Regions from separate parts of the Homo sapiens genome. Here region 2 is linked to region 1. A link means that fine-mapping ties the variant in region 1 to the expression of a gene that starts in the linked region. Tissue or cell type: lung. Region 1 holds a variant in brackets; the other region holds the start of a gene. All regions are shown on one strand. Distances are between the middles of the regions.

Region 1 (2,674 bases):
CAAACTCAGGCCAGCAGCGGTGCCTCACACAAGTTAGAATGCACATTCTCAGGCCTAGCCCCAGACCTGCTGGTCAGAAACTCTGGGGTGGACTGCTTCTGTACCCCAACGCGCTCTCCACTCCAGCCCAGGAACCACTGATGTGAGCCAATCCTTCATTTTTCAGATGGTGAAACTGAGGCCCAGTGGGAAGGAACTCAACTAAGGAAACCCCAGGAGTTCCAAGTCCAGCCTAGGTGTCACCACCTCCAGGAAGCCTCCCTGGGTTTAACCTAGACTGTTGACCCACAAAGCCAGAAGTGGCTGTATCATTCACCTGTGTATCCTATCGCTGGCCCAGGGTGGCACTCAGTGACCATTTGTGCAATGAAGTCACGAAGGCGGGCTCACAAACCCCTTGTTGCCCACAGCTGCTCAGCACTGTCTCAGGCATCTGAGGCCAATGCACTGTGGGACAACCTCCCCAAGATCACACAGTTCTGGGTTCAAAAGGCGACCAGCAGGTGGTAACCTTGGTCAGTTGGGCCTCCTCACCCCAAGCTCTTGGGGTCATCAGAGAGGGCATTTGCCGAGCCACTGGCCTCTCCCACTGCAGGCTGCTCTGGTCAGGAGGTAGTATGTGGGGGATGCACTCTGACACCCCACAAACTCAGCCCCAGCCGATCCCCCACAGGGCAAGGCCACTCCATGTCCAGCCTGCAGAGAGACCTGCCTCAGTGCTAGGAGGCCTGCCTAGGAGTTGAGGAGCCATCCTGGGGACCCAGCCCACTGGTCAGCAGCCAGAGAGGGGCTGGGAAGGCCACGCCTTCGAGGGTGGGGGCCTGGAGGAGGAGCATGCAGGGGTGTCCCAGGCAAGCAGAGGTTCTGCACATGCTCAGAATCCCTTTGGGGAGTCAGCAGAGCCTGAGGGGGACCGTGTGGAGCCGCACTGACCTGAGAGGTGGGGTGCTCTGGGTTCCTTCTGTCCTGCCTACCTGGAGACCCACCTGGGGACACGGCCCAGGGCTAGGTCTCCTGCATCCAACAAACCAAGACCCTGCAGGTCTGGGGGATGCCCCATGAGCCCCTACCCCCGAAAGCTCAAACCTAGCAGGGCCCACCCTGCCCAGCCACGGAGCACTTCGAGGAGGGTCTCCAGGGCTCAGTGCCAAGTGGAGAGGCAGGTTCCCTACATGGCTTTTCCCGGGCAGGAATGCCGGCCCTGCAGCAGGCCCACTCCTTGTTCCTGGGTGCATCTGGCCAGCCCTCCACCTTCCCAGCTGTGAAATGGTGATGATGACAGCACTTCCACTGCGGGGTCCCCTGCCGGCCACCCCCACCCAGCCCTGAGGTCGCTTGTTCTTGCACCTGCTTCCTCCTTGCCCCAACAGCAGGGGCAGGCACTTCGACAGGCAGCTGCAAACCTGTGTATCTGAACAGCTGTGTCCACCACCAGGCAGCCCCTTCCCAAGGAAGAATTGCACACTGGGCTCTTGGCTCCAGTCACAGCAATAGCCATCATGATACA[C/G]CGATGGCCAGGGTGCTGAACACTGAAAACCGCAAGGCTACAGTTGAAGAATCCCAGTTACTCTTCCCAGTCACCCCCTATGCTCCCAGAGAACCCGTTATTCCCTTACGCAGACGAGGGGTGAGTACCTGCCCCAGGTCACAGCCAGAGGGCAACAGTGCCAGGATTCATGCCGAGCAAGCAGCAGGGGTAGGCAGGGAGCCCAAGTCCGAGCCTGGCTCCACCACCTGTCTTGGCTATGTCAAGATCCTCAAACCCTTGGAGCCTTAACTTCTTTGTCTGTAAAATGGGCACAGGGAGCACTACTTCAGAGGTTTGCAGGGAAGATCAGAGGAGCCCCTGTGTAAGGTGCTGGGCACCAGGTGCCTCCTCACCCCCAGGAGCTGATTCCCACCAGCATGATTGCTCAGCACCCCTACAGACCACACAGGAGGCACTGCTTATTCTAGACACACTGGCCCTTTGTGTTTGGGCACTGTGGAGAGCTCAGGAAGCCCCCCCACCAGGGCTAGGCAGAGATAGGGCTGTGGCGGGCCAGCTTGCTCAACCAGCATTTGTGGGAACCATCACCTCCACCCCAAGTCCAGCTGGGGCTGGCCTGGACAGAGCAGGCCACCCTGACCCCAGAGAGCCAGACCCTGCATGGATGCTCTAAGGCCAGGTGTGGTCCCCAGAGCAGGAGCAGTACCTTCTCCTGAGCCAGAAACTGGTGGGAGTGGGCCCAGTGCTCCCCTTTCAGGTAGCTCAGCTGCACACTGGCGTTCTAGACCCTTCCCCTACAGCCTCTCAGTTCCAAGTGTGGCCGCTGGACCTGCAGCTAAAGCATGACCTGTCGATTGTCAAAGAGCAGATCTCAAGTTCCAGGCCAGGCCTGCTGGGTCACATCTGCTGCTGAGCAAGACACCAGGTGAATCATGTGCAGGTGAATGGAAGGCCCGGGAAGCCCACCTGTGTGAGAACCTCAGCCTCCAGGTAAGCTGCACCGGCTAACTCAGAGCAGGGGCCTGGTACGGAGGCTCATGCCTGTAATCCCAGCACTTTGAGAGGCCGAGGTGGATGGATCGCTTGAACTCAGGAGTTGGAGACAAGCCTGGGTAACATAGAGACCCCTGTCTCTACTAACATTCAAAAAAAAATTAGCCAGGTGTGGTGGCACAGGCCTGTGGT
Region 2 (2,674 bases), 58 kb after region 1:
CTGAGTCTCAGAAGCCTGCAGCCTGCCCGTGGTTCACGAATCAAGACCTGTAGCCTTTCGGCTGGAGGCCCCCTAGAGCCGCTTAGAGTCCAGGGCACCGAGGTGGACAGGCTGGGCTGGCAAGACTGCATCCGGAGGGGGCGGGAGAACCCTGGGGGGACAGAGGGAACCAAGGCCTCTGGGAGGCTCCCCTGCACCCAGCCTGACTCCTGTGTTTCAGGATCCTGCGGCCGACGGCCATCGGGGCCCTTCCTGCGCAGGACAGTGGGAGAAGAGTGGCAGTGGTGGGGAGGGTGAACCAGGGAGAAGCTCACTGCTCTGAGCAGGGAGGGAGGGAGCCCCGGCCACCACCAGGTCTCTGCCCCCAGGTGGCTCCCAAGAGGCAGGCAGCGGCCTCTCTGTAAATATCCACCAGGTCCAGCACCCAGAGGCAGCCAGAAATGCAGGGCACAGGAACCTGCCAGCGCGTCCCTCCACACACAGCAGGGGACTCCCGCCCCCACCTCTCACTCACCGACCCTCGGACCAGAACCAGCTGCACCTGCCCCGTTCCTGGGGCCGGCAAGGCCTGGGGCAAAGAGAGCGTGGTCCTTCAAATGACCCTTGCCCAGCAGGGAGAGGGAGACACCTGGCATGGCCCTGGACCTCTCCCCCAAATGCAGAGCTCAAGCCCCAATTCCTCGCCAAACAGCAAGGGCGTGAGATACCACGGCGGGGCCCAGAATGCAGAAGAGCAAATGGAAACTTCCAACTGCGCAGCCCTGAGCTCCTCCGATTCCCCAGCCCCCACCCCCACGCCAGGCCCCGGGCAGCGAACCTGCCCGCAGTGCCCACGCCCGCCCGCCGCGTGCGCTCCTGCCACGCCCGGCCCGGCCCGGCCCGGCCCGCCAGGTGCCCTGAAGGGGCGGAGGGTGCAGGGGGTCCTGGCGCCGTCCAGCCCGGGGCGGAGTTCTCAGCAACTCCGCGCGCCGGGATCCCGGCCGCCCTCCCCGCGCGCGTCCCCCGCCCCGCGCCCGGAGCCCGCGCCCCGGCCCCACGACGGCCGCGCCGGGAGGGACCCCGGGCCCGCGCACGCCGCGCCCTGCCCGCGCCGGCGACCGGAGGGCACGGCCCCAGGCGCGGGCGGGGGCCCCGAGGCACTGAGGGTCCGCGGCCGCTGCCTACCTCGGTCCGGGCCAGCGTCGCTCCCGCGCCGCCCTCGCGCCGCAGTCGGGCCCCGAGCAGCGCGCGGCCGGCGCCGGCGGCGGCTCATGCTCGGCGCCCGGGCCCGCGGCACCCGCCCACCCGCGGCCGCCCCCGCGCTGCGCCAGCTGCGGGCAGAGCAGCTCCCTCCGCAGCCGGCGCCGGGGAGCGCGAGCGAGCGAGCGAACGAGCGAGCGCGGAGCGAGCGCCGAGCGGGCACGGAGCGGGCGCGAGAGCGCGGGGAGCGGGGGAGCGGGCGGGCGCGGGACGCGGAGGGAGGAGGGTGCGGGGCAAAGGTGCAGGGGGAGGTAGGGCGCGGGACGGGGCTCGAGCAGAGGGCACTGGGACAGGGCGGGCGCCGGGAGAGGGCGGCCAGGCTTTCATTTAAAAAGGATAAGGCATCACGCCTGTAATCCCAGCACTTTGGGAGGCCGAGACGGGCGGATCACGAGGTCAGGAGATCGAGACCATCCCGGCTAACACGGTGAAACCCCATCTCTACTAAAAATACAAAAAAAAAAATTAGCCGGGCGTGGTGGCGGGCGCCTGTAGTCCCAGCTACTCGGGAGGCTGAGGGAGGAGAATGGTGTAAACTCGGGAGGTGGAGCTTGCAGTGAGCCGAGATCGCGCCACTGCACTCCAGCCTGGGTAACAGAGTGAGACTCCGTCTCAAAAAAAAAAAAAAAAAAAAAAAAAAAAGGATCAGGCAGCAGACAAGCTAGGAGGCGATGCGGCCACCGCATTTAAAAGGCCCTCTGGGGACTCCCGCAGAGCTGGCAAAATTTTTGTCAGTGGAATCAGACGGTGAAAGCCCTTCTGTGGGCAAGTCCTGGCCCCTTGGGTCACTCCCCTTAACCATCTTAATCGCCCTGTAAGGTCGGTGGTGGATTTGTTCCCATTGGACAGGTTAGTAAACTGATGCACAGGGAGTGCGGTTACCCTGCAGGGTCTCAGAGCCTATAAGTGGCAGAGCAAGGCTCCAAAGCCACCTTGAAAGATTTCAGAACCACTAAAGCAGGACACAGGTCTTCTGGCGTCCACTGGAACTTCCTGTCGCTCTGAAGGGTCACCTTCTCTTGAACGGACACCCTGTGGCCTGACCCCAGGGTGGCCCAGAGTGACTCTTGCAGGCAGTCAGACGAGGGCCAGTGAGAAACAGGTCTGGGGCGACGATGTCCCCAGGTGGAGGGGTCTGTGTGAAAAAATGGGGAGGAGCCCCACAGCACCCCTTGAAGAGGCTGAGGACCTTGCTTACTCACTTAGTCCTTGTGTCTTGAACACCTGTATGCCAGGTGTAAGATGGGGCACTGGGATTCGGCTGTGAATGTCTCTGTCTGGTTGGAGTTTGCATTCTTGTGGGAAGTAGGCAGTGAATAAAAATACACATAAATAGTTCATGTGTCAGATGCTGCAGATCCCACAGAGAGGCCCAGCAGGGAGAGGGAGCCAGCGAAGGGAGGGGGAGGGGAGCTTGTAGGGTGGGGGATTCTTT

Evidence for each region. PIP is the estimated chance that this variant, and not a neighbour inherited with it, causes the effect.
Region 2: RASGEF1A starts here. The variant in region 1 is fine-mapped to the expression of RASGEF1A in lung (TOPMed, PIP 0.98).

What each region holds. Positions count from the first base shown.
Region 1 is chr10:43,207,682-43,210,355 of GRCh38, forward strand. The region is part of intron 1 of RASGEF1A (RasGEF domain family member 1A); the gene reads right to left. Among named protein-coding and RNA genes, the nearest start is that of RASGEF1A, 58 kb to the right of the region's middle. The variant C/G (reference allele first, on the strand shown) is at 1,508.
Region 2 is chr10:43,265,681-43,268,354 of GRCh38, forward strand. It overlaps RASGEF1A (RasGEF domain family member 1A), which reads right to left and starts at 1,385. Exons shown (of 13, transcript NM_145313.4): 1 at 1,165-1,385. RefSeq lists an enhancer at 15-890.